7 linked regions of the Homo sapiens genome follow. The protein of the gene in region 5 interacts with the protein of the main gene of each other region in a biochemical or structural test. Each region holds a gene or a part of one and is shown on either strand. Other genes may lie near its edges. The genes, in order: GRID2IP, PDZK1, ARHGEF11, GRIP2, CLDN2, PATJ and PALS2.

What was found.
Region 1: the proteins of CLDN2 (region 5) and GRID2IP interact in a test that uses a peptide from one of them, tested with the Homo sapiens proteins (one large-scale study listed by IntAct).
Region 2: the proteins of CLDN2 (region 5) and PDZK1 interact in a test that uses a peptide from one of them, tested with the Homo sapiens proteins (one large-scale study listed by IntAct).
Region 3: the proteins of CLDN2 (region 5) and ARHGEF11 interact in a test that uses a peptide from one of them, tested with the Homo sapiens proteins (one large-scale study listed by IntAct).
Region 4: the proteins of CLDN2 (region 5) and GRIP2 interact in a test that uses a peptide from one of them, tested with the Homo sapiens proteins (one large-scale study listed by IntAct).
Region 6: the proteins of CLDN2 (region 5) and PATJ interact in a test that uses a peptide from one of them, tested with the Homo sapiens proteins (one large-scale study listed by IntAct).
Region 7: the proteins of CLDN2 (region 5) and PALS2 interact in a test that uses a peptide from one of them, tested with the Homo sapiens proteins (one large-scale study listed by IntAct).

The regions. Positions count from the first base shown.
Region 1 is NC_000007.14:6,506,151-6,510,439, forward strand, and holds part of GRID2IP (delphilin), read right to left. Parts: intron 4,251-4,289; coding exon 4,133-4,250; intron 4,003-4,132; exon of another isoform or gene 3,866-4,002; intron 3,164-3,865; coding exon 2,808-3,163; exon of another isoform or gene 2,756-2,807; intron 2,252-2,755; coding exon 1,835-2,251; intron 238-1,834; exon of another isoform or gene 1-237.
Region 2 is NC_000001.11:145,672,939-145,676,669, forward strand, and holds part of PDZK1 (Na(+)/H(+) exchange regulatory cofactor NHE-RF3), read right to left. Parts: intron 3,276-3,731; coding exon of another isoform or gene 3,220-3,275; intron 1,389-3,219; coding exon of another isoform or gene 1,332-1,388; intron 944-1,331; coding exon 719-943; intron 83-718; coding exon 1-82. UniProt on the Homo sapiens protein: A scaffold protein that connects plasma membrane proteins and regulatory components, regulating their surface expression in epithelial cells apical domains.
Region 3 is NC_000001.11:157,039,243-157,042,742, forward strand, and holds part of ARHGEF11 (rho guanine nucleotide exchange factor 11), read right to left. Parts: intron 1-3,500. UniProt on the Homo sapiens protein: May play a role in the regulation of RhoA GTPase by guanine nucleotide-binding alpha-12 (GNA12) and alpha-13 (GNA13). Acts as guanine nucleotide exchange factor (GEF) for RhoA GTPase and may act as GTPase-activating protein (GAP) for GNA12 and GNA13.
Region 4 is NC_000003.12:14,536,820-14,541,650, reverse strand, and holds the start of GRIP2 (glutamate receptor-interacting protein 2), read left to right. Parts: upstream 1-1,308; 5' UTR 1,309-1,342; coding exon 1,343-1,382; intron 1,383-4,831.
Region 5 is NC_000023.11:106,918,486-106,923,573, forward strand, and holds the start of CLDN2 (claudin-2), read left to right. Parts: upstream 1-1,916; 5' UTR 1,917-2,066; intron 2,067-5,088. UniProt on the Homo sapiens protein: Forms paracellular channels: polymerizes in tight junction strands with cation- and water-selective channels through the strands, conveying epithelial permeability in a process known as paracellular tight junction permeability.
Region 6 is NC_000001.11:61,745,007-61,749,295, reverse strand, and holds part of PATJ (inaD-like protein), read right to left. Parts: intron 2,198-4,289; exon of another isoform or gene 2,164-2,197; intron 1-2,163.
Region 7 is NC_000007.14:24,579,659-24,583,947, forward strand, and holds part of PALS2 (protein PALS2), read left to right. Parts: intron 1-4,289.

The sequences.
Region 1 (4,289 bases), on a different chromosome or scaffold from region 5:
AGCCAGCAAGGTGGGACTGCAGCGGGGGCATGAAGGAGCTGTGAAGAGGCTAGAGCCAAGTAAGGGGCTACCGGAGGTGGCTCAGGGGTCTGGCTCTGTCATCAGGTCTCCTTGGAGAGCGGTGAGTTCACCAGGGCTGCCCTGGGCAGAGTGAGCTGGTGCTGAGAGAACTGCAACTGTGACAGCCTAGGGGCCAGACGCTGGACACGTGGCTGTGATGAATGGCATAGATGAGAGGTAACAGCCTGGGGCTGGGGCAGGGAGTGCGGACGGGGTGGCTGCCAAAGGGAGAGAACCCAAAGGGAGGGCAGGCAGGGGAATGAAGTCTTAGAACATGGCTGCAGGGCAGGGACACTGAGGATGGATTTGGGTTTGGCCACATGTGTGACCTGTGTCCCTGTGTCCACCTTTGGTAACCAATGGAAGAACCACGCTGTGGAGCAATACTTGAAGATCGGTCCAAGGCTGGCAGGAGTGAGGTCTCCAGGGGACCCAGGAGGTCCTTATTTGTGCCCTTGTCTCACTGAGGTATTTTTTTTTTTTTTTTTTTAGATAGGGTCTCACTCTGTACCCCAGGCTGGAGTGCAGTGGTGCCATCTTGGCTCACTGCAACCTCCACCTGTGGGAATCAAGTGATTCTCCCTCTTCAGCCTCCCGAGTAGCTGGGACCACAGGCATGCACCACCAGGTCTGGCTAACTTTTTGATTTTTTTGTAGAGACAAGATCTCACTATGTTGCCCAGACTTGTCTTGAACTCTTAGGCTCAAGCAGTCCTCCCGCCTCAGCCTCCCAAAGTGCTGGGATTACAGGCGTGAACCACCAAGCCTGGCCTCAATGGGCATCTTTATTAGCAACTTGGAAAGGGTCCCTGGAGATGTGGGCTGAGAAAGCAGGAGACAGAATTGGGACCCAGGAGATGGCAGTGGGGAAAAATCACAAGCATGCCTCTGCCCAGTGTGACTACATGTGAGAGTGAGCTATTGATCCCAAGAAGATGGAGTTGAGGATGATGGTGATCATGAGCACTGGGACGGGGCAGCCCTGGGAGCTGGAAGGAGCCCCTGCCATATTAAAAGGAGTATGATGTCCCAGTCAAAGGAGCTGAGAACCCTGTTCTCTCCTCTGAGCTGGTCAAGCCCCATTGGGGGTTCCATCTGGGAATGTCTCTTTGACAGGGACATGGACACTGGAGTGGGGGTTGGAAACCATGTTCTAAGAGAATGATCTGAAAAAAAAAAAAAGGGGTGGGGTGAACCTTGTTCATCTTGCAGATTGGTTGGTCTGTGGATAAGATTGCTCTGCCCGATTTTAAGGGCCAGAAAGAAAACAGGGCATGGGAATCCTGGGGAGACAAGATTTCAGAGCAAGACAAAGGATGGTTAAAATCGTCCAGTGAGGAAAGGAAGACCTTGACAGGTAGTGAGTTCCCCACCACTGAAGGTGTTCAAGCATACACTGCCAGTGTTGTGAGGGAGGAACTTCAAGCATCAAAGTGAAAGGGTGAAGGCTGGTGTGCAGGAGTTTGAACCAGCTGCTCTTTTAAAGGTTTAAGAGAACTTGTCTGGCCTCAAAAGTGATAGGTTTCAAGGATGGGTAGGGTGGCATTTCCAGGTGTCCCCAGTGTGTGTCTTTGGCTGAGGGACACAGATTGGCTTCAATGCCTGCAGTGGCCCCCAAGCGTGGGGACGTTCTTGGGCTGGGCCTCTACTCATCCTCTGCTTGGGGTAGGGAGGATGATGTTGGAAGATGCCTGGCCGATGGGTTTTCCTTCAGTGCTGCTGCCCAAGCCATCCTCCCCCAGTACAGAGCGCTGCTGGGTCCCAGGTCACCTACCTGACCCCAGATGGTGCCTTCTGAGTTCTCCACCTGTTCCCACCGCAAGCGCTTGACGCTCATGTGGCTGGTCTCACTGCGCCGGTGGCCCAGGCCCCGGGACAGCATGGGGGGTGCACAGGGCACGGGTGGGGGCAGGGGCGGTGGGGGTGGTGGAGGGACTGGGTGGCTGAGTTGGGTGAGGGGCTTGGCCAGCGCCTGAGCAGGGCCCCGGGAACCATCAGAGCTGCGGGAGCTGGGCTTAGCGTCATGGAAAGGCAGGGGTGGCGGTGGTGGGGGGCTGAGCGGGGGTGGGGGGATGTGGTCAGAGATGGAGGAGTAGGTCAGGGAGCTGCCTTCTTCACTGCTGCTGATGCAGTCGCTGGCGCTGCTCCGCTCATTGGTTACGAAGCTGCCCTGGTCATCATGGAAGCTCATCTGGTGGTGGGGAGAGAGGCAAGGGGAGGGTGAGGCTGGGCCCAGAGAGACTAGAGCAGGTGCAAAGTGAAGGATCATGGGATAGCCTGGGACAAGGACAGGGCCATCTCACGGGTTAGCCTCAGGCTGTGAGGGACACCTGGGCTAAGGATAGGACTGTCTCACAGGTTAACCTCAGGCTGTGAGGGGGATAGCCTGGGCTAAGGATAGGACCCTCTCATGGGTAAGCCTCAGGCTGTGAGGGGGATAGCCTGGAATAAGGACAGGACCCTGTCACGGGTTAGCCTCAGGCTGTGAGTGGGATAGCCTGAGCTAAGGAATGGGCTAACCTGCGACAGGGAATATGGGCTAGCCTCAGTCAAGGAGCATGATAACCTTGAACAGGAGATAGGGTAACCTGGGGCAAGGGGTGGGATAGCTTGAGCTAGGGAGTGGGATAGCCTGGGGAAGATCCCAAGGGCAGCAGGCCCCTTGCGGGAGCCCAGGAACACTGTTGCCTTGCAGACCGCCACACCTCGCCTCACCCGCCTCCCTCCACACCTGCTTGCGTGCCCACCTCCTCGTAGTCGTTCTCCGGGGTCAGGAAATCATCCACGATGGTGACCCGGGGGCCCAGCTGCTCGCTCAGCACGTCCAGGAAGCGGTCAGTATCGCGGCTTCGCACAGGGTGGGAGAAGGTGAAGAGCTTCCTGCGGCTGGGCGGGCGGGTGGGGTCCGGGCTTGGGGGGCTGTCGGGGCAGATGGGCCCGGGGCCTGGCTGTGGGGAGGGTGCCCTGCTGCTGTCCAGGCTGGCGTAGGGGTGGGACTCAGAGCTGCTGGGGGAGGCCAGACCCCCCGAACACAGCGGGTGGTAGCAGGGGGAGGGCAAGAGTCGCTCGCTGGGCCATGAGACGCCGGACAGGGTCCTGGGCCCTGGAGGAGGGATGGAGTATGAGGATTCCTCTTCAGCCAGCACCGAGGTTCCAGGTGCAAGCTGGAGAGAGGGTCCTAGGACAGACTGGCTCTGTGTCCCAGGCCACTCTCCTTTCCCTCTCTGGGCACAGTGCAGGAAGACCTTGAGCGGCCCTGCCTTCCAAGCATGACTAAAGGCCAGATCTGGTGAGCAGGAGCACTGCTCGGCCTCAGGACAGGCTGGACGCCAGCTCACCTTGGAATGGTCACCAGGGGTCCCAGCTGGGAGCCACTGAACACCATTAACTCAAAGGGTGGAGGGGTTTCTCTAGGGCCCAGAGCCACAGTCATGGAGCGTCTCGCGCACCCAGCAAGCCCTGAGATCACAGGAGGGCCTCCCAGGGCTCCTGCCTTCTGAGCTGCAGAGCAACTGTCTTCCCAGCTGTGCCAACGCTGGTACAACGCGTTGCACTTGATCATTTATCCAATAACCACTTGCTAACTCGGGGACTTCCTCAGAATCAGGCATCTGCCTTCTTTCTTTTTCTTTTTTAAGACAGGGTCTTACTCTGTTGCTTATAGGCTAGAGTGCAGTGGTTCGAAATAGCTCACTGCAGCCTTGAACTCCTGGGCTCAAGTGATCCTCCCGCCTCAGCCTCTTGAGGAGTTGGGACTACAGGCATATGCAACCATGCCCAGCTAATTTTGTATTTTTTTTGTTAGAGATGGGGCCTCACTATGTTGCCAGGCTGGTCTCAAACTCCTGGGCTCCATTGATCCTCCTGCCTCGGCCTCCCAAAGTGCTGGGATTACAGGCACGACCCACGGTACCCAGGCTACTTTCTTGATCCACAGCTGAGGTGAGGGTCACAGGGCCATGGGAGGGACTGGGACAACCCTGACCCTGATGGAGCAGAGAAGCAGCTCCAGGGCTGAGCCTGGGGTGGAGGGAAACACCCAGACAGTAGATGACAGAGGCTGGAGCCCTACCTGTGGTGACTGCTGGGCTGGGGCCTGGAGGGGAAGCCCGGGATTTGGACACGGTCCCCATCTTCCCTTTGAAGCTGCTGTTCAGTCGAGACTCAAGCTCTGCATAGACGGCTGACATCTGGAGGGAGACGGGGGAGAGTCCAGCCCATTCTGCTTC
Region 2 (3,731 bases), on a different chromosome or scaffold from region 5:
CTAGCACATTCACCCCATTCACTTCAATGATGACATCCTCATCCTCTAGCCCAGCCAAGTCAGCAGGACCGCCCTTCTGTACCTGTGAACAGAAGTTCTGAGTTATCAATTTCAAACAGAGAAGGGGACATCAGACTAGCTCTCCTTAAGAGAATAGATGAGGAGCTCAAGAATTTATTTTTAATCATGTTATTATTTCTCCTTGAGGTATAGAAGTTGAGAAAGGTGTTCTAATGCTTTTATATTTATGAAGGCTATAACTTCCATATTCACATGATTAGTGGTATTATAAATAGTGGTTCAGCATCATATGTCTTCTGGGATGAAGGGGGATAAATAGGTCCCCCTTCTTCACTCCCAACTTGAAAGCTTTAGGGATTCTTATCAGTCCCTACAGGGTAAGGGGCATTATGCCAAATGCACAGAAGCAAACAAATATGACTGCCAATCAGGGTTGATAGTGACTGTCAACTAGAGTTCAGTCAACTCACACTGTTTGGAACAGATGTTTGGGAAACAAACAAACGTGAGCTTATGATGTACTGGTAGCTAACCTAAAGGGTGTGGGACCATGACAACATTTATCTGAACCCAAGTGAGACCCCTCAGTGTGTGCCTTCAATGGAACCTCTCTACTAAGCCATCAATGGGTGGGAAAAGCTGAGACTATCCTAATTGTGGCTGTGTTTGTTGGGCTGCTGGAACCAGATTACCATACCTCTTTGATGAATGAGCCTGGCAGACCCCGAATCGCATTTAAGTGAAAGCCATAGCCATTTTCACCTTTAGCCAGCCTGCAGAGTTTAGGCTTATGATCTACTTCCTCTGTAGTATCTGGTGGACTTGAGACTTCCAGAGAAGTGGGAGTAGGAGCTGGAGCCTCCTTGACAGAGCCATTGGGCAGTTCTTGACTTTGATAGTAGAGAAATGGAGAAAAATGAGCCTTTTGAAAAATAAAGGGAAAAAACATTAACTTAGTTGTAACCATGAGTAAGTTATACTTTGTTAAATGTGCTGATTTTTAAGGTATCATACATATTCCACTCTTCTTCTGGATGTGTCTGATTGTAGGCTGTAAAATTCCTCTACTACCCCAACCAGGAAAGGTATAAAAGAAGACTGTGCTTCGTTATGGAGTAATATGTGTATACATGTACACAAATGCACACATGAACATAAAAGCAGTATAGGATGCGGTACAAGGATCCCAAAAGAAGTCTAAAAAATTGCTAGTTTCTTTTGAGTGAGTTCATGATAGTGAGCAAGTCACTGAACAAGCTATACATAATCTCCCTGTTGGGAAATGACATATCTGACCGACTAGCCGGTACCTCATGCAGAGTACATTCTTCTGGCTTTTCCTTTCGGTAAGATGGTCTTCAGAGCTCCTTAAACACATTAGAAAAAGTAAAACACAAGACACTTGTGATAGTTAATTTTAGATGCCAACTTGACTGGATTAAGGAATACCTAGAAGCCCGGCAAAGCATTATTTTGGTGTGTGTCTGTGAAGGTGGTTCCAGAGGGGATTAGCATGCGAGTCTGAGTGAACTACAGAAAAGGCAAAGGTGTCAGTCTGTCTGCTAGAGCTGGGATACCCTCTTCCTCTCCTGTGCTTGGACATCAGAATTCCTGGTTCTCCGGCCTTTGGACTCTAAGATCTACAGCCGCAGCCCCCCAGATTCTCAGGCCAAATGCACAGAAGCAAACAAGTAGGACTGCCAATCAGGGGTGATGCCAGTAATGTGGCTCAGTCAGATTTGGACGGAGCCACACTACTGGCATCCCAGGGTCTCAAGCTTGAAGACAGCCTGTCGTGGGGCTTCTCAGCCTCCATAATCATACAAGCCAATTCCCCTAATTAATCTCCTCTCATACCTGTATCTATATCCTACTAGATCTGTCTCTCTGGAGAATGTTAATATAACACTATTTTTATCACTATCCAAAGATTCAAAGCTACTAGAAGAGACCAACCCATATACACAGGAATAATTGGTGAGAGGGTGACAGCTGTTATATGGTCACATATTGTAACAAAAGTTAATTCCAACCCTTTGCTGCTTGCCAATACCCTCCCCTTCCAGACCTGGGATCTGTGCTTATTTATTTTGCTATGTATTGTTGTAAGCATTAGCTGTCACTTCTATTATGCCAAACTCTCCAACATCTTTAAATACTCCTAATTCATATCAACTCCCAGACCATCCATGTAAAGAAATGATGATCTTGAATACCGAAGAGGCATAGAACAGGAAACAGGATTGATTTTTTTGTAATAGAATTACAAGCCTAACTGGCTGTTTTAGTTGAGACAATTAGAAGGGTGGACCTGGGTATGGTGTGATCCTGGATCAGCAGCTAAATGGCTGCCCACACGTGTCCGGAACATTTGTTAGGTGATGAGTAGGAAATCAAGCAATGGAAGGTGAGCACAGTGTGGGCTCTACTTCAAATCGCACTGTTTAGCAGCCTGACTAAAATTAGATTTTTAGTCCTCTGGTTATCATGTGTCTTACTAACCACAAGACCACATCTCCTTCCTTTCTAAGTGAGAATACCACCAGCACAGAACCTCCTAGTTACCCAGTTCAACTAACTTCAGACCTTTCAGTCATATACTTGCAACAGTTCCACAATGGAGCCTTTCTCTTTAAAATATGGAAAATTATCAGGTGACTCATTACATGCAAAAATACGTCTGATAACACTACCCAAACAAGCAAATCAACTGTATCTGACAGTCGCAGCTCATCTCGAGGCAAAGTGCAATAACATTAAAACACTTGAGATTTTGGCCGGGCTTGGTGGCTCATGCCTGAAATCCCAGCACTTTGGGAGTACAAGGTGGGCGGATCACTTGAGGTCAGGAGTTCGAGACCAGCCTGGCCAAAATGGTGAAACCTCATTCTCTACTAAAAATATAAAAATTAGCCAGGTGTGGTAGCACACACCTGTAGTCCCAGCTACTTGAGAGACTGAGGCAGGAGACTCACTTGAACCTGGGAGGCAGAGGTTCCAGTGAGCTGAGAACATACCATTGCACTCCAGCTTGGACAACAGCGGGAGACTCTGTCTCAAAAAAAAAAAATGAGATTTTATTCATGCTTCATTCAGATAATTGGGTGTCTAGTATGTGCCAGGGACTGCTAGAGGGTTGTGTTTTACTCACTGATGTATCTCAAAGATCTACCCTCCACCCCAACCTACAGGGCTTACTTTGGAGAGCGGGGAAGGAGATGATGAGGGCAGGCTTCTTTTTCGATCAAAGTTCTCTATTAACCAAAACAGAAAAATTACAATTAAATCATTCTATGATAAGATCAGGAGGGGTCAGAATCCCCTTTACAACAAACAGCTGCAGCAGCCGCCTCTGATTTCTGCTTGACTTTCCACCAACTGCAAAATGACTCATCATTTCTGGCAGCTTCAGTTGGTTCTTAAGCCAAAAGCTAGCTCCCTATGGCTTCTCTGGTCCTGTTGTGCCCCATAGGACACCTTAAAAAAAATGTGTGGCCCGGGCGTGTTGGCTTATACCTGTAATCCCAGCACTTTGGGAGGCCGAGGCGGGCGGATCACAAGGTCAGGAGATCGAGACCATCCTGGCCAACATGGTAAAACTACTAAAATACAAAAAATTAGCTGGGCATGGTGGTGCGCACCTGTAATTCCAGCTACTCAGGAGGCTGAGGCAGGGGAATCGCTTGAACCCGGGAGGTGGAGATTGCAGT
Region 3 (3,500 bases), on a different chromosome or scaffold from region 5:
CAAAGCATTCTGGTTTCAGAGGCTGAAAGAACGTAATAGCTAAAAGGAATCAAATCTTAGAGGCTGGCTAGCCTAATTCCCTCATTTTTCCAAATAAGCAAACTGAGGTCGAGGGCAGGTAAGCACCTTTGCAAGGTCATTCACCCAGCTGCTAACAAAGCTGGCTCCATCATCCACGTCTACTAACTCAGATGTTGTGTTCTTTCCTCAGAACTCCAAACCTCCTTTCACAAAAGATCTAACATGACTTTTTATGAAGTTATACTTTTTTCTTTTTGAGACCAGGATCAGCAACTTCTTCAGTACGGTTTACCCCATGGGGCAAAGGAGTGATCTTGCATGCCACTAGCAGGTGTATGCTTGGGTCTTTTATCAATATAGTGATTGACAAAAGAAGGAACACCACAATCCACAGCAAAAAGAGTTTCCAAGCCACGTGATATATCTTTGAGTTAAGCTTAAAAAATAATAAACCAATAAAAATGAATTTTTAAAGGCAATGCTACTATGAAGAGGTGAAACAGATTCAGTCAATATAGATTAAAATAACTCCTCTTACGTTTATAGAACTCAACAGTTAACAAAGCCTTTTCACAAACATCAGATTATCAGAACATTAAAGCAGCAAGAAACACTATACAAACTAGAGTTTCTAAACTCCATTCCACAGAGGCTGTGAGCTTCCAGAACTCCTTTACCTTTATACTAACTAGGAGATTAGCTATGTGCTGTTCACAAAATCTTTTTATTTTTGATGAACTCGTATTGTCATTTAATTTTTCTTATTTCTTGTCTATTAAAAAAGCTAAACAAATACATTAATAAAAGGGCACTCTTTCAGAAATGTTTTTGAGTATCTGAAGTTAAGCTTAGTCTGCTCCTTCTCATAATGGTGATTAATTGCCAAATGTTTCAGCTGCAAATCCATTGTGTCTCTCATCTCACACCCCTAGATGGGAACAAGGGTACATTTTGGAAAAGACTCAGCATTTCCGGGACTTATCATACGTAGCTCTGGATCCCTGTCTCCATTCTGGGAGGCCAACCTTCTAATCTAGGTAGAAACTCAGCTAAATGTCTGGGGACTTCTTGGTCCCAGGAGTCAATAAAGACCAGAAGCCAAGGTGCGAAGAGACCCCTGACAGAGAACAGTTGCTGGGTCTAGATTTATTTTGAATTAGGAAAGTCATACGCTTTTAAGACAAGGAATGGCTGGAGATCACAGAACAAATCCTTTCTATCCCCATCACTAACAGACATTTAAGGTGAGCCAAGGTAGATGAAGTCTCTCTCATTCATCAGAGTTCCTGGGAAGGAGATTCAGTAACCCTTCTCTTCTCACATTCTTCTAGTACCCTATCTATTGGAAAAATACTCCTTCCTCCTGACCCCATGCACTTCTACAACAATAAAGCCAGTTCACTCTGCTTAAATTCTTCAAAATGATATAAAGATTTCAGTCACCTTGTTTTGTTTTGGGATACTTAGCTCAGAAAGTTGTGCACGAAGCTAAATCAAATCTGTGAATTTACCATCTATAATTTATATAGAGTTTACAGTTTAGAAAACAATTTGAAATACATTATCTCGTTTGATTTGCTCCTTTCAATAGGCTTGTGAGAGAGATGAAACAAACATTATAATCCTCAAATGACACACCATATAAAAATGTTTGAGAACTGGATTGTACTTTATAGAAATGAACTACTACTGCTTTACATGAGGAAGCCAGAGGAGGCATGTGACTTCCCCAAGGTCACATAGTTAAGGGGAAAGCCAGGACTCAAACCACAAACTCTTGGCTTAAAGTACTTTGGTTTGATCCTCACATGAACTAACTTTGGGCAGAGGAAAGATGTTTCATGGATGCAAACCCCTAACCCTCCTGTCCATCTCAAAAACATTTGCCATGGGGGAACCAGGCTAACAGATATAGATGGCTTAGCAAAACTCATGACCACTCCTGTAAAAATAATTTAGTATCATTATCTCTGTTTGCAATAGCAAACACATTTTTAGAAACTCTTGAAAGGAATATATATTAATGGGCAGTAAGTTGCCCATGGACAAAAACTGAAAGGGACATGAACAGCTACACTTTAGCCCATCTTTCAGTAACAACTGATTAACACTGAAAGATAAAGAATAGTTGCAAATACTTTATGCTTTCTATGGACCCAGGAGTCACTCTTGAACAGGGTGCTACAGGAGATGAAAGACTGCCAAGTAAATATTCCAAAATTTTCTTACTCTCAGCTACAATCTCTTTCCAAATACATAGTCCTTTATTATGTCATTTATTTTCTAGAAAATACACATTACCTAGGAAACCTTCTCTAATTGACCTTATTTGACTACATTTGAAATTAACACGTGAATGTTGAAACAACCCGCAATGAAATAATTTGTACTTGCTGATCTGTTCATTCACTCTAACATTCATTTGTCAAACATTTCTTGAGTACTCACCTCATGCAAGACACTAAGCTAGGCACACAGGATTTCATACAGGCAAACCAAACTGTCCCTGCTTGTGAGGGGCTTACAGTCTGGTGTTGCTTTATGTGGTCTTCAAGAGTCTTACGTGTTTCCCAGTCCCCCAGTTGCATGCTCTCTCTGTGAGCAAGTACTGTACACCTTAATTTTCTAAAACTCTCCTATAGCACCTTACACTAGGCTCTCTACACAGCAAACTGATAAACTGAAAGAATACTAGACTCCATAATCCGCAGCGTATTATTCCTTTCAGTGTGATTTAAATCTGTAAATTATTTAAAATCCATAGAGTCTTGAGGCTGATGTTGCCCAAAGTTACAATTGAATAAGCCTACAGTTAAGGGAGTAAGATTCAGTGCAGCTAGCTGGGGATGTCTGAAGGGGATCTGAGTCCTACCACTCTTAATGGGGAAGAGAATCAGGCAGGGTGGAGGTGAGGAATACCCTTACCCTGCAAAGCTGCACTATCTTACAAGAGAAAATAGTGCTTTAACTATAGGACTTACAGGTATGAGCCCCAAGACTGAACCCCCAAGGTAGGAGCCCCAAGACAGAAAAGTAGAAGGGAAGACCTTGACTGCTGACGGGCACTTTACCCTACTACCAAAGAGAAAGGAGAAAACGGTGCCCCACACATTCTACAGGACCAGTACAGAAGCCTAGTTAGACATGATGGGGCAATGAAAGAGCTACAGATTCAGACTCAGAAGACCTGTGTTTGAGTCTTTGAGTCCAGATTCTGCCACTAGCCAGGCAAGATGGCACTGGGCAAGCCAGGTAGCCTCTCTGAGCCTCAGTTTCCCCTTCTGTGAAACATGAATAATAACCTCTGATGCTTCTGTCTACCTCACACAGAACCACTGTGAGATTCAAATGAGATATGTTCTACGAAAGCACTTAGGAAACTGTAATGTGCTGGGCAAATCCTGAGATTTTTATCTATGAGGATATCCAAACCCCCAGGAGTGTCTCACATCAACCCAGGAAGGCTCACCGCCTCCTCC
Region 4 (4,831 bases), on a different chromosome or scaffold from region 5:
GGTCTTGAGTTTGCAGATACAAAAGCACAAGTAGCCCTGCCCCAGATTTAGAACCTGGATTATTCTAAAGGTGCCACTAGCGTTGGGCTGGCAGGAGCCAGTGTGGGGCGGCCCAGGAATTGTGGCTAAATTCCATGCTGGGGTCACTGTTCTGGAGGGAACCCACAAGAAACCTCGGGTCCCTAACTACCGGGCAGCCCTCTCCCACTAGCTGCAGGGCACATGGAAGAAATATGAGGCTCGTGTGTTCCCACGCGGTCAGGAACTCCATGGGAGCCAGGCCTTGTCTGTCTGGTTCTCTGTTGCCAGACGCACTGTGCAGTTGTACAGGTTGTTGACATCCACCATTCAGTGCCCTGTCACCATCACCCCACCCTTCTTGGTGTCTGACCCTCAGTTGGTGCCAGCACACACTGGTGGGATGGAGGGCAGGGGAAATTGGGTGCAGCCTGCCACCCCTTCTCACAGACAGGTAGAGGAGGAGCCTCAGGTGTCCATTAAGATCAGCCTGGTCAGTCCTGAGCCAATGTGGAGGAATCCCAGGAGTGTGCAAGGCTAAGGCCCAGCTGGGTCTGGGACGGGGCAGAGCCTGCCAGGTGTGGCTGGAGCCTGTGACCAACTGGCCCTGCCTATCAAGCCCAGAGGCGGGCAGATCCTCCACCCAGCTCACTTGGTCTTCACAAAAAGCTGGGTGGCCACTCCACGTGGCAGGCTGCCGGGTTCATCTTTCCTAAGTCCCATTTTACCGAGGGAAAACTGATACCTAGGAGAGGTAGTTGGAACATTGGTGGGAGGGCCCTGGAGGGTCTCCAAGCTCAAGGGTTTCTAAGCTGAGACCTACAGAGACGCCCTGGCATTGTTCATGCAGTCAAAGAGTCTGTGCTTCATCTAGCTTATGTCCTGGGGTTCTGTGCAAATTCTCTTGGAATCTGCCGTTTAGAAAAAAAAAAAGTTTGGAAAGCACTGTTCCCTGTCTCCAGATGAAAAAACTGATGCCTAGTGAGGGAAGAGTCGTTTGCCAAAGTCCCAGGGCAAGTTAGAAGCAGGCTCTCTCTCTGCCTGAGAGCCCTGGGGGAAGCCCCAGGCATGCCACCTTCAAAGACCCCCTGTCCAGACCCAGGCTGCAGGGGTGGGGCATGTTGGACCCTGTCCTGGAGCCAGCCTTGACAATAGCCATGTCCCCTTTAAGCAGAGAGCCGCCCGCTGCAGTGGGTGGACTCGGTGCCCAGCCAGTGGGAGCTGTGAGCTTCCCTCCCACAGCCCCTCCCTGGGGAGGGGAGGGAGGGCCAAGCAGCGTGGCTCCCGAGGGAGTTGGTGGGCAGCAGGGGAGACAATAGCGAACATGCTGTGTGGGCTCAGCCGGGAGACCCCTGGAGAGGCGGGTACGTAATGGGGGGTCTGTGGGCAGAGTGATGGGGCTGAACACATAGATCCCTCTGGAGCTGCTGCCCAGAGAGAGGGGACTGGATGGCTGAGACCTGGGACTGCCACTCCCTGGAGACCCAGGGCTTGGGGAGGGTGGGGCAGGACACTTGCTGGGGCTGTCTGTCTGACCCTGGCCACTGTCCTGTAGCAGGATGGCTGAGCCTCCCCCAGGGCTGTCCAGCACAGGCAGGCAGAACAGGCGGGTCTGGAGGTTCCGAGGGCAGTGCTCAGCCTTGTAGGGGGAAGGCTGGTCCTATCTGGGTGTGAGCGAAGCCTTTTGCCCAATCTCAGGATCTGCACAGCTGCCTGGTGGGAGTGAGTGTCCGACCCAGAGGGGTGAGAGCCCAAGGCCCATGGGCAAGGTGGTGGTGAGGAGTTCCTGTGCTGGCACAGCTGGGCAGGAGACTGGTTCTCGGCAGGAGGAGAAACTCTGGTTTGGGGGTCTGACTGGTGAGCCCCTGGGGCTCTGGGAATGTGTGGGATGGGGGATCACAGCTGCCACATTCCTGGGTGTGCTGAGGCTGGGACCCAGGGGAGGGGCAGACACGATTGTTCCATCTGTCTCTCCAGCCTCAGCCTGGGCTCACCCTATTCCTCCAAAGAGGGAGCTTGGGGCCTGGACCAGAACATACTGCATTCACTGCCCTGGGGTTGCCTCACTGGTTTCTTCCCACGCTCTTGACATATCTTTGCACCACAGCTCCAAGGGCAAGGACTGTGGTCCCAGTGGACAGAGGAGGAAACCAAGGCTCAGGGAGGGCAGTGGCCGAGCTGGGATTGACACCCCGATGACTTTTACTGCAGAGCCCCCAGCCCTGCTTCTGAGGGCCCAGTGGACTTTGATTCCCACCTCCCTTCCCATGGCAAGGAGCAGAGCCAGGTCACCTCTGGACCCAGCCTTAGCGACCCAGGAAAAATAACACTCATAATCATAATAGCTGGCTGTTGTCGAGAGCTTCCTCTGGGCCAGGCTCTTTTCTAAGCTTTCTGTGCATTTTCTCATTTAATCCTCATAACTACACTGCCACTTGGGTACTGTTATTCTCTCCATTTTGCAGTTGGGGAAACTGAGGCAGAGAGCTGCTAAGTGACTTGTTCAGGGTTATATAGCCAGAAGTGACAAAGCTGGGATTTGACCCGATGGGCCCACCCATCCTTGGCAACTGCACTGTAAATGGAGGCTCTGCCTTCTTGGCCTGGACACATCTGTTCTTTCAACCCAAGGCCCAGGTGAGTGGGGTCACCTTGGTCTGCTGTGGTCAGGGCCACAAAGGCAGCAGTGCCCTGGAGACCTTACCTGGGGCACTGCCAGGGAGGTGTCTCCCCCTCCTCATGGGCCTGTGACCTCCACCTCGGCCCAGGGTCAGCATCAACTGCCTGGGCCTTTGCCCAGTCTCCTCCCTGGCCTGGCCTCCACCCCTTTGCTGCCATGGGAGGAAGCTTGCCAAAACACAAATCTGCTCAGCTCCTAAGCCTTGCATTCAAGGCCCTTCCTGACCTCTCTGACATTTTCTCTCTCTGATGACTTACTTGACCTCTACCCTCACCACTGTAGCCTCCACCCTAGGTCTCCTCCCCAGGTCACAGAACCTCATGATCACACTTGCTTCAGTTTGCATCAGCACCAAGGCTCTTCTTCCAAAAAGTGTAAAGATGGAGCTTCAGGCACAGTGGGATCCAGATGCTCAATTAACATCATTAGGACTCTGGGTCTCTTCGTAGCTTGCTCTGCTTCACTTTAGTGAGCTTCATTTCCAGGCAGACTCTCTCCTCTCCTTGAGAGTTCCTGGCACCTTCAAACTTAAGGTCAACCAGCTCAGTCATCCCTAAGGAAAGAGAGCCTATTTCCAGTAGTTCCAGCAAATGCCCCAGAAACGGCTCTCATTGGTCCAACTTGTATCACATGCCCACCCCTGATGGATCGCTGAGCCTCTGATTGGCCAGGCCTGGTCATGTGACCTCCCCTGTTGCTGGTAAGGACAGCCATATACCTCCACATTTGGCACAGAAGACTGCAGCCCTGAGAAGTCAGCCCACTGGCAGTGTGCGTCAGTGAGTGCCCCGATTGGAGCTGGGCTCTGTGGACCAGGCAGCCCTATGCCCTTTCTCTGCTCCTGATGGACTCTGGGTGGGTCCCTTCTCAGGCCCCACACCCTGGGCATGTCGTCTCACTCCAGGGAGTCTTGCTTTCCTGTCACTAACCCCAGAGTTCTGGCAGGAAGGGACTGTGACCTATCTCCATTGGCCCAGGCTGGGGCACACAGTAGGCCTGAACACAGATTTTGGCAGGAAGTCCCTCTCCATGTTCACTCTCCTGCCTTGAGGACGGGAGGCCTGCTCTGACTCCGCAGCCACAAAGACATCTTTGTTCCAGGCCTGCTAGGTCTGAGCAGGCACTTGCTGCCATGCTGGGGGCAGGGAAGTCTCAGTGGGTGTGGGTGTACATGTGTGAAGGTCCCCCTGCTGTGCCCTGGGCTACCCACTCCTCCGAGGGGCCCTCACCAGGCCTACCCCTTGGCTCTGAGACTCCTCAGGCAGGCCTGGCCTCCTACTCCACAGCAGGGGCTGTGGCCATGGGGGATCCTTCGCCTGAGTTTGCGTCCTGGCTCTGTCTCTTCCTAGTCTCTGACCTTGAGAAACTCATTCCACCTCTTTGATTCTCATTCTCCTAATCTGTAAATGGGAATTGAATTAAAAAAATATTTGCTGAGCATGTACTACATGCCAGACAATGTGTGCGCTGCACACAGCAGTGAGCAGGCAGACAGAAGCCCGGCCCCCTGGAGCTGACATCCCAGTAAAAATAGTCGTAAATATTTAGATGGTGTTGATTGCCCAGAGGAACATGAAGCAGGGAGGGAGTGGAGAGGAGGTGTGGAGGTACAGGGTGCGTGTGTAAGTTCCAACAGGCGGATGGGGAAGGCCTCCCTGAGGAGGTGACATTTCTACAAGTTCCCGAAGGAGCTGAGACGGGAGTTTTGATGATGTCTGGGGAAGAGTTTTGTGGGCAGAGGGAACAGCCGATGCAAAGGCCCTAGGGGGATGTGAGTCTGGTGGGCCTTGGGTCGAAAGGACAGATGTGTCCAGGAAGGCTTCACCTCCCTTTAGAGTGCAGTTGCCAAGGTGGGGTGGGCCCATAGGGTCAAATCTCCGCTTTGTCACTTCTGGCTGTGTAACCAGGAACAAGTCACTTAGCATCTCCATGCCTCAGTTTTCCCAGCTGTAAAATGGGGAGAATAACAGTGCCCAAGTGGCAGTGTGGTTATGAGGATTAAGTGAGAAAATGCAGTGTGCTGGAGTGGAGCTGGCCAGGGCGAGCATCAGGAGGTGAAGTCAGGGGACCGGGGACTGACAGTTGTGGTGAGGACTTCTGCTTCTACTCTCCCTGAGCTAGACACAGTCTTCT
Region 5 (5,088 bases):
TTGGGAAGGAGGATGATTTCTGGTTTGCTTCACTGAGTTCACCCTAGGCAACAAATCCGACTGTTTGCTTTGATATGACTTGAAAAATAGAGTCAAGCATAATGACTATGAGGCAAGCTCTAGAGGTGGCCAGGTTTGGTACCCAGGCCTTGCTCTGTACTAGCACAGTGAGACCATGGATAGGAAACACCTCAGCACAGTGCCTGGCACCTAGCAAGTGTTCAATGAACCGTGGCCTTATCATTTGTACATGGGAATCCTTGGGAGGGAGTTGGTGTTGTACACTGCAAAGTTTGCCAAGCTAGATATCTACAGACCTAGATTCCAAGTCTAACTATTACTGCTCAACTTGGGATGTTGGGCAACTCTTTTCATCTCATTGGGCCGAGGTTTCCTCATCTGGAAATAGTAATGGCTGTCTTATTTTTGTAACATGTTGTATTGGCCTTTAAAACATGCACACTCTTTCACCTAGCAATTCTATTCTTAAGACTTTGTCAGTATTATGTGCAAAGATGCTGGGTTATAGTGAAAATGAAAATAACAAAACGTCTAGTAGTTTACGATTAAATAAATCATATTTTATATGATAGAATGCAGTGCAGCCATGACAGAATGATGTAGTTCTGTGTTTTAATTGACATGGAAATAGGTCCACGATATGTTATTTACAAATGATGTAAGGTTACATAAACTGTAGGTATAGTGTGATTCAATTTTATAAAACAAATCCCATCGATATCTTCTACAATACATCAAAATGTTAGCAATGATTATTTCTGGCTGGTGGCATTATGAGGACCTCTATTTTCTTCTTTATAATTCATTTTCTGAATTCTTTTCAATAGCATCTAGTATTTTTCTACTTAGAAAAAACTAGAAAGCTTTTTTGCGTTGGGAGAGTAAAGCCAGTCACTGCGCTCTACTACTCCACAGCATGTTTTTTTGTTTGTTTGTTTTGGTTTGGTTTTATTTCTGTTGTTGTTTGGGTTTTTGTTTGTTTGCTTTGCTTTTTTGAGATGGAGTCTCACTCTGTCACCCAGGCTGGAGTGCAGTGGTATGATCTCGGCTCATTGCAACCTCCGCCTCCTGGGTCCAAGTGATTCTCCTGCCTCAGCTTCCCGTGTAGCTGGGACTACAGGTGCGCACCACCACATCCAGCTAATTTTTGTATTTTTAGTAGAGACAAGGTTTAACCGCGTTGGCCAGGCTGTTTTCGAACTCCTGACCTCAGGTGATCCACCCGCCTCGGCCTCCCAAAGTGCTGGGATTACAGGCGTGAGCCACTGCACACGGCCTTCACAGCACTTTTGAGAGGCTTAAATGACATAGTGCATGGCACTGCCATGTGTGGTAAAAAGGAGAGCCCTGTCCTTATGCTGGCCTACTCAGTTCCACCTTGTAGGACCTGCTCTTTGAACTCAGAGTCTGAACCTACAGTACCCATGTTTGCCCTTGAGCCTTGGGACCAACCTTAGGGGTGGGGTAGGGCTGAGGGCCTGCCAGAGAATCAAGCTGAGTAGAAAAGTCTATGGAGCTGCAGGCCATGCAGGGCTGCTTGGGCACTGGCTCACCAGGGCTGTGTTTATGCAGCTTACTCCCTGCTGGGCTTCAGGGCTGCTAGCCAGGGACACCTAATTGGTGGGACAGAGCCCCCTCCTCTCACCACCCTCAAAGCTGGAATGTTCTGAATTCCTTCTTGGGCCAAATCCCCCTCCCCACAAGGCCTCTCCTGGGTTCACAGAGGTCACCACACAAAAGCCCAGCTGGAGTGGAGTTTTTGACAGAAAAAAAAAAACACACACAGAAAACCCACCAAACCTTTTTTTTTTTTTTTCTAAAGTGCCTCAATCTTTCCCAGCCTCCAGGGGTTTAATTCTGATCTGTAATAAGTCTCTGACCCACGGCTCAGATTTGCAGATGGATTTTGCAAAGCTGTGGTTAACGATTAGAAATCCTTTATCACCTCAGCCCGTGGCCCCTTGTACTTCGCTCCCCTCCCTCAGGATCCCTTTCTCCCTCTCCAGGGGCATCTCCCCCTCCAAGGCTCTGCAAAGAACTGCCCTGTAAGTATCTCCATCCTGATATAGTTGCTGCCTTTTAAATTCACCGAGGTGGGCACTCTTCCTTCCTAGTCACTATCCATTCACCCCATGGTGGAGCCAGGCTGGGCCACCTTGGGTTTCTGAGTGAAGGGTATGGGAGGGGAAACTCCGGTGGCATTTGGGTTGGTGGTATTTGTTCCCTCAAAGCTATCACAAAGGTTCAAATCTTTAAAACTTCAGGACCAGAGAAAGCACTCTCCAAATCAGATATTTTCTGGTTTGGGGGCTTAAAAGGACTGGGATAAAAATTGGAGGAAGGGAGCCACAGTTTACCCCTCTGCCTAAGTGTAGGGGACTGAGGAGTGGCAGAAGGGGCACTCCCTCACAGCCAGCTCCAGTGCCCTCCTTGGCATGAAGGCTCAGGGAGGTAGCAGAAGGTGGGTTCCTAAGTGAAGTCATAAAGTTTCCCCATGAGGTCCTTCAAGGACTCTCCCTCACTGGTCTGCAAGTCTGTCATTAGAAATTCCTTCTTTCGACTGAGGTATTACTCTCTTCAAGTGCCCTCTTTGAAAATGCAGTTGGAACCAAAACATTCACAGCACTTATGGCCGGGGAGATCGTAGGCGATTTTTGTTTTCTAAATTCTGCCTTTCTGTGTTTTCCAGTGTTCTAAAGTGAGAATGCTTTACTTTGATGATCAGGACAAAAATCAACTTCTTTTTCAAACAATAAGAAAATCTCTCAATCCAGTTGCAATTCTCTGAACTGCCATCAATCAATTGATGTAGAAGGAAAGATGAACTGCTCTAAGGACAAACTTTCAAGAAAGTAGGGCCTCAAGGGAATGGCTTTGCCACCTACTAGTGCCCTTGGCAGCTGGAAGTGAGTTTCAGAGAAGGGGGCAAGTGTCTCAGATTCTTATGAGGGGCAGTGAGATCAAGGGATATAGAAATGAGGCTGACTGACAGAAGAGGGCTGTGGTGGCCATCATCACCCCCAGAAGGCCACATCAGTTCCTTCCTTGAGCCTGGGAACCCCAAGTGCCCTGTCCCATGTAGTCTTAGGAGGGTACTGCCAAAGAAAGAGTACCATGCACAAGACTCTTGGAGCAAGAGATGGGGAGAATAGCAGGGAAAGTACCTAGGTGAGAAGGGGTTAAGTCAGGAGCTGCGGTCAATCTTGACCCTCCTAATCCTCTCCTGCAGCTCCAATCTCCCCACTAGGGAAGATTAAGTAAGGATCCTAAGTTAAACTTTCTTGCCCAGTCCTTGGGCCATGGAGTATGTTGGCCCTATGCCCAGAAGACAAATTCAGCTGACAAGGCCTAGAGTCCTCTGTACCTCCAACGCAGCCAGTACTTGACTTCTAGGAGGATCCCTCAAAGAGAGGCTTCTATTAAAACTGGCTGCTTCTAATAACAGCTCTTCAGTCTTCTATATTTGTCAAAGTGGCTTCCTGTCCCCATGCCTTTATTTGAGACTAAAAATCTTGGAGATGACAAACTAGGGCCTAGAGAAGCTATAGGACTTCCTCAGCAGGTTCTAGGCAGAACTGACACAACAAGAAGCTAGATCTTTTGATTCTAACACCAGGACCCTGTCTGCCCTCACCTCTACTGCTCATCAGACAAACAAAAACCTGGCTGAATCCAGCCTGTCTCACCACCCAACCATTCGCCATTTAGCTGGTCTTCCTAACTCTGGTGGAAAGCTGAACCCCCCCTCCATGGGGCCATTTCTATCACTTGAATAAGCTCCAATAACTTGTTCTTCCTCCTGCCTGGGCATGCTGCTATGCCAAGTCAGACTCTAGAGATTCCAAGCCTCAGTAATGGCATTTTCTTGACTCTGCCCTCTCCCTCACCCCAAAACACTTGCCTACTTACTACTACTTAGGACAGGCTCTGGGGAGAGGCTTTCCTCTTGGGGACACTGTTGATTCCCTTGGGAAACTCAAGCTTGACTCTTCAGCTGCCATCCCAGGAAGGCTGAAGCAGGAGCTGCTCCTCTGGGAAGCAGTAGGTCTTCCCCTTGAAAACCTCAAGGTATCTCACCAATTCTCACTGAAAGCTCAGATACAAATAGGAGGAAGAAAGGAAAAGTATTGAACCCAGCCTGGGTGAGGAGCAGGGAGGGCCCAAGGATGGTTTCAAGGCAAGGATGCATCCTCAAAGATGATTTGCAATTATCCAAGCAAATGGTGGATGGTAGAATAGCATGCTTACGGGCTTGGAGACAGAGAGAAAGGCAGTCAGAGAAATTCAAGTGCTTAGGTTTGGCTGGATCATATGTGTATGTATAGGAGCATAAAGCATGAGGTTGGAGGTTAATGGTGTGAGATGAGGCTGTGAAGAAAAGCCGGGGTGAAATAATGGAGGGCTTTCTTGGTTTCCTGGGCTAGCAAGTTTGAACTTCATCCTGAAATACTTAAGAGCTCTGAAGATTTTTTTTTTTTTTTTTTTTTGAGACAAAGTTTTGCTCTATCGCTCAGGCTGGAGTGCAGTGGCACAATCTCGGCTCACTGCAACCTCCACCTCCCGGTTCCAGCGATTCTCCTGCCTCAGCCTCCCTAGTAGCTGGGATTACAGGCACATGCCACCACGCCCAACTAATTTTTGTATTTTTCGTAGAGACGGGGTTTCACTATGTTGGCCAGGCTGGTCTCAAACTCCTGACCTCGTGATCTGCCCGCCTCGGCCTCCCAAAGTGCTGGGATTATAGGCGTAAGCCACCGCACCCGGCTGAGCTCCTGAAGATTTTTAAGCATGGCAAAGCGTGAGGTGAAAGTCACAATTTGATTTCAACTTTACAAAGATCTTTGACTACTGGGTAGGTAATTCATTATTGCAGGATTGGGGCAGAAGTGGAATTAGAGAGATCAATTTGAGGTGTCTATGAGATTTTCAAATAGACAAGAAACGATGGTTGCATAGTCTGAACTATGGTTTAGGGCAGTGGCGACAGAAAGAAGTAGATGGATTCACAGTCTATTTTTGAAGGCAGACCTGATGGTACATTATAATTAATTATATGTCAACAAGAGG
Region 6 (4,289 bases), on a different chromosome or scaffold from region 5:
GGTGGCTCACGCCTGCAATCCCAGCACTTTCAGAGGCTGAGGCGGGTGGATCACGAGGTCAGGAGTTCGAGACCAGCCTGGCCAACATGGTGAAACCCCTGTCTCTAATAAAAATGCAACAAGAGCAAAACTCTGTTTAAAAAAAAAAAAAAAATAGCTGGGCGTGGTGGCGGGCACCTGAATCCCAGCTACTTGGGAGGCTGAGGCAGAAGAATTGCTTGAACCCAGGAGATGGAGGTTGCAGTGAGCCAAGATGGTGCCACAGCACTGCAGCCTGGGCAACTCCATCTCAGGAGAAAAAAAAGAAAAAAAAAATTACTTCATATGTATACTGCAAACACTAAAGAGGATAATTTAGAGCATTTGGCCTAGCACATGGTACACATTCAACAAATGATAACTACTATTAGCATCTCTTTTCAATCAAAATGATTTAAAACATGGCAAAACCCCATCTCTACAAAAACAAAAACTAGCTGAGCGTGGTGGTGCGTGCCGGTGCGTGCCTGTAGTCCAGGCTGAGGTGGGAGGAACCCTTGTGCCCAGGGGGTCAGGGCTAGTGAACCATGATCATGGCACTGCAAAAGCTAATAATTAAATTATTGTAGCAGAGATTTTAGTGTGTAATCAGTAAGTTAGTTCTGAGAAGACTGAAAAATAAAATGTTTCACCACTGTAGTGAGTATAAGGGAGGAGGTTATAGAGAGGACCTATAATTTGGAGTATTAATCCATTTACATGGCCAGGCGCAGTGGCTCACGCCTGTAATCACAGCACTTTGGGAGGCTGAGGCGGGCGTATCACTTGAGGTCAGGAGTTCGAGACCAGCCTGGCCAACATGGTGAAACCCCGTCTGTACTAAAAATACAAAAAATTAGCCAGACGTGGTGGTGCATGCCTGCAGTCCTAGCAACTCAGGAGGCTGAGGCAGGAGAATGGCTTGAACCTGGGAGGCAGAGGTTGGAGTGAGCGGAGATCAAGCCACTGCACTCCAGCATGGGCAAAAGAGCAAGACTCGTCTCAAAAAAAAAAAAAAAAAAAAAAAAAAAGGCATTAAGGCAGTATACACATAGCAGTGTAAGTGCTTTGGTAAACTAAACCCTCTTAAGAATAAACATATTCAGATCAGTGGCTCACACTTGTAATTCCAGCACTTTGGGAGGCCGAGGCGGGTGGATCACGAGGTCAGAAGTTAGAGACCAGCCTGAGCAACATGGTGAAACCCCGTCTCTACTAAAAATGCAAAAATTAGCAGGGTGTGGTGGCGCACGCCTGTAATCCCAGCTACTTGGGAGACTGAGGCACGAGAATCACTTGAACCCAGGAGGCGGCTCCAGCCTTCGCAACAGAGTGAAACTGTGTCTCAAAAAATAAAAATTAATAAGATATTTTAGATTCCTTTTTACATGAAATCTGTTCAAAATCTTGTGTGTATTGTGCATTTACAGCACATTTCAATCCTAACTAACCCAATATAAAGTGGCCCATGCCCACGTGTGAGAGTGGCTTACTGTAGTAAAGTTTTAATCTATGCCTTTCCAGAAAGATCCCTGTTTGGTTTTGTTTTTTCTTCCTCCACCGTGTTTTTAGGAAAGACTTCATCAGTTCAGCTCATATGGTCTCTATGCCTTTTCTTAAAGTAACTATCTGAGTAAGAGCACTCACAAACTTGAGTTCTTCCCAATAAAAAGATCACAACTCCATAATTTTACCGGAATTAAACATAAGGGAGGAACAAAAAGCAGGAGAATAACAGCTTACAGATTACAAGACACATTCTTGAACATTCTTTTCTTTCAACCTCGCCAAATCTCTGTAAGGCAGACCATTTGCAAATGGGACCAGATTCTGGAGGACCAGAATTAAATGACTTGTCAAGCGTTATATGGTAGGTGGACCCAATTCCTTGTCTCCAAACTTTACTGGCTGGACAGCTGTACGAACACAAAAAATAAGTGAGCTCTACATCTTCAGCATCGATCTATCCCACTGACTTAAAAGGAAGGGTATTGACAGGCACTAAATTTCTCCCCATTTGCACCGGAACCTAAAATAAGGGCTTTAAAAAAGGCATCCAAATCTACACAAAACCCTAAGGAAGAAAACATAGCAATGGTCATGCAAATACCAAGGTAGATTGGTCCCGTTTCTCAAAAAACTTACCAAGTTGGCTCACCAAGGGGAGCAAAGTCTTAAGTGAACAAATTAAATCCCACTTTGGCTTCCCCAACCTAATATATTCTTGTTAAACTTTAACAAAGCAAGTAAATTCAGCCTGCTGGCTCCTCAGTGTAAGGATAATTATTAAATGCTGTTAAGTAAAAATGCAATTGTAAGAACTAGAAAATGCTGAGTCATTGTCTCAGAATCACAAGGTTCTAAATGTGAATTCACTATGAGAACATATATACAGATTTTTCTCTTTAACTTTAAAAATGCAATCTGAAAGAAAATACATCCTAATGTTATTAGTGGTTATCTCTCAATAGTAGTCTGTGTACTTTTAGTTTCTTTTTTGAAAATTTTCTCCAATTTTTCTACAATGAATATGTTAGCTTTATAGTTACAGAAATATTAATGTATGGCTTAAACTTATTACGGTTTCATTAAATGCAGAATAGAGCTTAATTTTCTATTCAGCTTCAAACACAACTATTTTTCTGATGGGAAACCCATTTTATGTGACCTTGTGATATTGCATATTGGTTTTCATCCATGATTCCTGGTTTATAACTCCCATAACTCTTGTTACAGTCTTTTATTATACTGTTGGGGTGCTTTAAGTCTCAGAAGCAGTCCCCAGAAATATCTCTGACACTCTCCTGCCCCTCCTTTCATTCGCTCCTTTTTCTCCCCAAGGCAGGACTCTAATCTTCCCCTGCTTTTCCATCTTGAAGGTGGCTGTAAAGAAATTCTCTGGGCCAGAAGGGTGGCTCACGCCTGTAAGCCCAACACTTTCACAGGCCAAATCGGGAGGACGGCTTGGACCAGGAGTTCGAGACCAGCCTGAGCAATATAACGAGACACAGTCTCTACTAAAAATTTTTTAAAAGAGGCCAGGCGTGATGGCTCACATCCGTAATCCTGGCACTTTGGGAGGCCAAGTCGGGCAGATCTCTTGAGGTCAGGAGTCCGAGACCAGCCTGGCCAACATGGCAAAACCCTGTCTCTACTAAAAATACAAAATATATATATATATATTACCCAGTGGTGGTGGCGCACACCTGAGGTTGTGACGCTGAGCCAGGACAATCGCTTGAACCCAGGGAGGTGAAGTTTGCAGTGGGTGGAGATCGCGGCACTGCACTTCAGCCTGGGCAACAGAGTAAGGCTCTGTCTCAAAAATAAATAAATAAAATAAATGAATAAAAATTTTTAAAAAAAAAAATAATTGCCAGGCCCGGTGGTTCACGCCTGTAATCCCAGCACTTTGGGAGTCCAAGGCGGGTGGATCGCCTGAGGTCAGGAGTTCGAGACCAGCCTGGCCAGCATGGTGAAACCCCATCTCTACTAAAAATATAAAAATTAGACAGGTGTGGTGGCAGGCGCCTGTAATCCCAGCTACTTGGGAAGCTGAGGCAAGAGAAGCGCTTGACCCTGGGAGGCAGAGGTTGTAGTGAGCCAAGACAGCGCCATTGCACTCCAGCCTGGGCAACAGAGCAAGACTCCGTCTCCAAATAAATAAATTAATTAATTAAAATAAAATAAAGTAAAATAATTTTGGCTAGGTGCAGTGACTCACGCCTGTAATCCCAGCACTTTGGGAGGCCAAGACAGGTGGATCACTTGAGGTCAGGAGTTCGAGACCAGCCTGGCCAATATGGTAAAACCCTGTCTCTACTAAAAATACAAAAATTAGCCAGGTATGGTGGCACATGTCTGTAATCCCAGCTACTCAGGAGTCTGAGGCAGGACAATCACTTGAACCCGGGAAGTGGAGGTTGCAGTGAGCTGAGATCACCCACTGCACTCCAGCCTGGGCAGCGGAGCAAGACTCTGTCTCAAAATAAATAAATAAATAAATATTTAAAAAAATTATCTGATCTCCCTTGTCTGATTGTAGGTCATAAGACCCCCATAAGAAGGGGTCCTGCCCATACCCTGGAGGAAGGAATGCTACAGAGAGAGGCCAAGAAAAATCTGAACAGATAGGCATTGCTGGGTTTCCCTACCCCATGCTTCAATTATGTCTACTCAATGAAGTCTCCATAAAAAGCCCAAGAAGATGGGGTAGGGAGAGCTTCTCAATATCTGAACACATGGAGGTTCCTGGAGGGTGGCATGCCCCT
Region 7 (4,289 bases), on a different chromosome or scaffold from region 5:
TTACCTACTTAGTAGCACTAAGTAAAGATTTAATTGAAGGAGCTTAGCTTATCACCTTTTTATAGACCCAGTTCATAATTCTTATGTTTTTGGAAGAAATCTTTTATAAAAAGTGATTTTCAATTTCATTTGATAAATCTACTTAGAATATTTATTAGAATAGGCAATAGAGCAATTTTTTATAAATCTTGGTTTATTGTATAGCATATTAATGGAACTTTTTCATAGTTGCTTTGTTCTGTAGGATATTATTAGATATTAGTTGGGTAGGATTAATATTTTTAAAAGATAGAATAGGGCAGCTGGAGATATGTGGGACTTTTAAAGAAAAATGTATGAGAAAGTGTGGGGAAAATGATTCTCTGAGCAGACTGGGGGCCATATGCTTAGGAAAGGAAAAGTGAAAGGTGAGGGATTCGTTTAGAGAAATTCTGTGGTGGAACTCAGAGGGGTACATGTTGGGAGAAGTTTTAACTTAGGAAAATACTAAGCTGATTTACTTAAATGCATATTTCAAGGATAAATACTTTATATTTTGTTCTGTAGGTCATTTTTACCATGAAGTGACTCTGGCAGGGATTCTTTACCTAAGTGGGCATCAGAATCCTTTGGAGCTATCCTACGCTAAAGGATTCTAATTTAGTAGGTCTGGTATGGGGCAGGAGCATGTTTATATTGTTAAAATCCCCAGGAGCCACCATTTGAGTGTAAAATAATACATCCTGTGGAATATTCCATTTTAATAATGAAATCATTCAACAAAGCTTTTGAGGTTGTATATAATTTAGGTAACTCTAATGCTGGAACTTGGTCTCTCACCAGGTCAATACTTCTGCACATACCTCATTGATCCCCATTGCTTTACTCTCTTGCATACTCTTCCCTCCTCTGCCTTCTTGTTTCTTTTCTACTAATGAATATTCAGGCATGGTTCTCCAAGGAAGCCATCATTAGGTGGCCTCATCCATAATTTATCTTTTCAGTACAGAACAAATTATAACACAGTGCTTATACAACTGGCAAGTACACTCATCACATGAGTAGATGATTTATGTGTTTTCGTTCACATGAGCCTTGAACAAATATACCCAGTTTTACTAGTTGAGCTTCCTTGTTTTTTCTTCTTGCTATCAAGAGGTTGGCGTTTAGTCATAGTTAATGCTGATGTAAACATTTGATAATATTATAGATACCACCATGTTTCAAGGTCTATGTTAAATGCTCTCCACACATTATCTCATCTGCTTGTTGCAGATTTTAAAATTATGTTTTTTAAGTCACTAAAATCTTTTTATGATTGTATTAGTTTTCTGTGACTGCTGTGACAAATTGCCACAGACTTAGTGGCTTATAAATAAATGTATTCTCTTACGATTCTGAAGGCCAGACATTTGAAATCAGTATAATTGGGCCAAAATCAAGGTGTCAACAGGGACATTTTTCCTCCAAAGAATCTAAGGGAGAACTTACTTGTTGCCTTTTCCAGTTTCTGGTGGCTTCTGGCATTCCTTGGCTTGCGGCTACACACTGCAGTCTTCAAGGCTGGCATTTGAAATCTTTCAGCTCTGTGTCTTTCATTTCCCCACGTGTGTGTGTGTGTGTGTGTGTGTGTGTGTGTGTGTGTGTGTGTGTCAGAGAGAAAGGGAAATCTCCCTCTGTGAAGGACACTTGTGAAGGCATTTAGTGCTCTCTGGAATAACCTCCCCATCACAAGATCTTTAATCACACCTGTGAAACTTTCCAAATGCGGTGACATTCATAGGTGTCAGGAATTAAGACATAGATATCTTGTGGAGGGGGAGACTATTATTCAGCCTACCATAATGGTAATTTAAATAGTTCAGAAAAGGGAGGAGGAGTTGATAAGTCTTTTTGTCCCATCTTCATCACTTTCTAAGTCAGTATTTCTCAATCAGGGATGATTTTGCTGAACAATCTCCAGGAATATTTGGCTGTCACAACTGGGAAGGTGTTGCTACTACTATGTATAAGGTATAGGTCAGGGATGCTGCAAACAGTGCACAGGGCAGCCCCCCTCAACAAGGAGTCATCCAGCCCAAAATGTCAGTAGTGATGAAGCCGAGAAACGTTATTCTAAAGGCAACTATTGCCAATAGCTTTTTTGGGGTATCCAGAAAAAATTTTGATGCCTCTATTACGAGTAAAAGCCTTTAATCTGATTTGATCAGAACGGGTGGTAGTTTTGGCTGACTGAAAGTGATTTAAGTGAAGAGTCATAAACGATTGACACATATCTTAAATAATATATTACTTAAAAATCTACATTCATGTGTCAGTCTTTTCTTTAAGTATGTGTCTTTTGCCAGGAACTCTGGGTCATCATTCTTATATAAGCCAATGCATTATCACTGATTACCAGCTTTGGAGTGAGAACTTAAAAGTTTGTGAAGCAGTCTGCATATAAGATCTAGATTTCTAATGTTTTATGACTCCTCAATTGTTTATACTTGTTTTACCCTTAATTTTACAGCAGTTTATCATTTTGTTTTGTTGTTTTGTCACTTGCTTTTTTGGGGTCTTCCCAAAGCATCAACTGATTTTCATATAAAGAATATAACTCCCATCATCTTGTATCAAATACAGCATATGATGCATATAAAGAAAATGAAATCCTATTTTGTAATAATGGCTTGCTAAGGAATTGGGAATACTAATTCTAGTCGCAGCTCATTTGAACAGCATCCAATCTGGTGATATGGTGAGGGCTAATGTCAGTTGTTTACAAATTCTTGAATGTTTCAGAACATTTTGTTTTAGTTCTGTAATGGCAGAGTTTATAAATAATCTATAGAATATTACTATAAATACTTTATTGGTATTACCAGCTTAGTGCTTGCGTTACTTTTCTAAAAGAAACATTGATTTTTTTTTCATTAACTGTAATAAATATTATTTGAAGTTTGAATGTGGCTATCTTTGAGTGGATTTGTCTTCTTTTTATTTACTAGAATATGTATGTCTATATGCACATAATAAAATGTTATATGGAAAACCTAACTTTAGTTACATAAATAAAAAATTATTTGCTTTTTTTATTCCTCTTTTAATATCCTTCTATCTTCTATCCTTGTATAAGGAGCTAGAAGGTATAAGAAACTCCAATAATTGGGTTTCTTATAAAGAGCTTTGATATAAGAAACTCAGATAATTGAGTAAAGAAGTTTAATTTATTAAAGTTGCTTATTTTTGAAATGATAGTCATGCTTTTTTTTTTTTTTTTTTTTTTTTTTGAGACAGAGTCTTGCTCTGTCACCCAGGCTGCTAGAGTGCAGTGGCGTGATCTCGGCTCACTGCAACCTCTGCCTCCCGGATTCAAGTGATTCTCCTGCCTCAGCTTCCTGAGTGGCTGGGATTACAGATGTGTGCCACCACGCCCAGCTAATTTTTGTATTTTTAGTAGAGAGGGTTTCACCATGTTGGCCAGGATGGTCCTGAACTCCTGACCTCGTGATCTGCCTGCCTTGGCCTCCCAAAGTGCTGGGATTACAAGCGTGAGCCACCGTGCCTGGAAATCATTCATATTTTTATACAAATCAATTTAAATGTTTTTTATTTTTTAGCTAGTAATCTTTTGGAATGGAGGTCAGTAAAAAAAAATGTAAGCCCTATTTTTAAAAGGTTGGACTATCTTGTGAGACAAAGTAGTCTCAGTTTGCCATCACCAACCAATCCTTAGCATTAAGCTCTTGAAAACAACTAGGTAGAGAAATTTTCCGTGAAGGAATTTAATGATCTTTATAAAGTTTTACTATTCACCCAATTAAAATGTTAGATTATCATTTTATGCTATTCAATTTGGAAATACCAGATACTATACAATTAGTTTCCATTCACCATTACTTTCTTGAAAGAAACTTTTCACGACTTTCAATAAGGTCCCCTGCCCCCAAATAAAGTGGTTATAAATCCTAGGAGGCATTTTTGAGGATATCTTATTCAGATCCTTTCTTTTTTTTTTTTTCCCATGCTAAATATTTATTTAATTTTTTTTTTTATTATACTTTAAGTTTTAGGGTACATGTGCACATTGTGCAGGTTAGTTACATATGTATACATGTGCCATGCTGGTGTGCTGCACCCACTAACTTGTCATCTAGCATTAGGTATATCTCCCAATGCTATCCCTCCCCTCTCCCCCGACCCCACCACAGTCCCCAGAGTGTGATATTCCCCTTCCTGTGTCCATGTGATCTCATTGTTCAGTTCCCACCTATGAGTGAGAATATGCGGTGTTTGGTTTTTTGTTCTCACGATAGTTTACTGAGAAT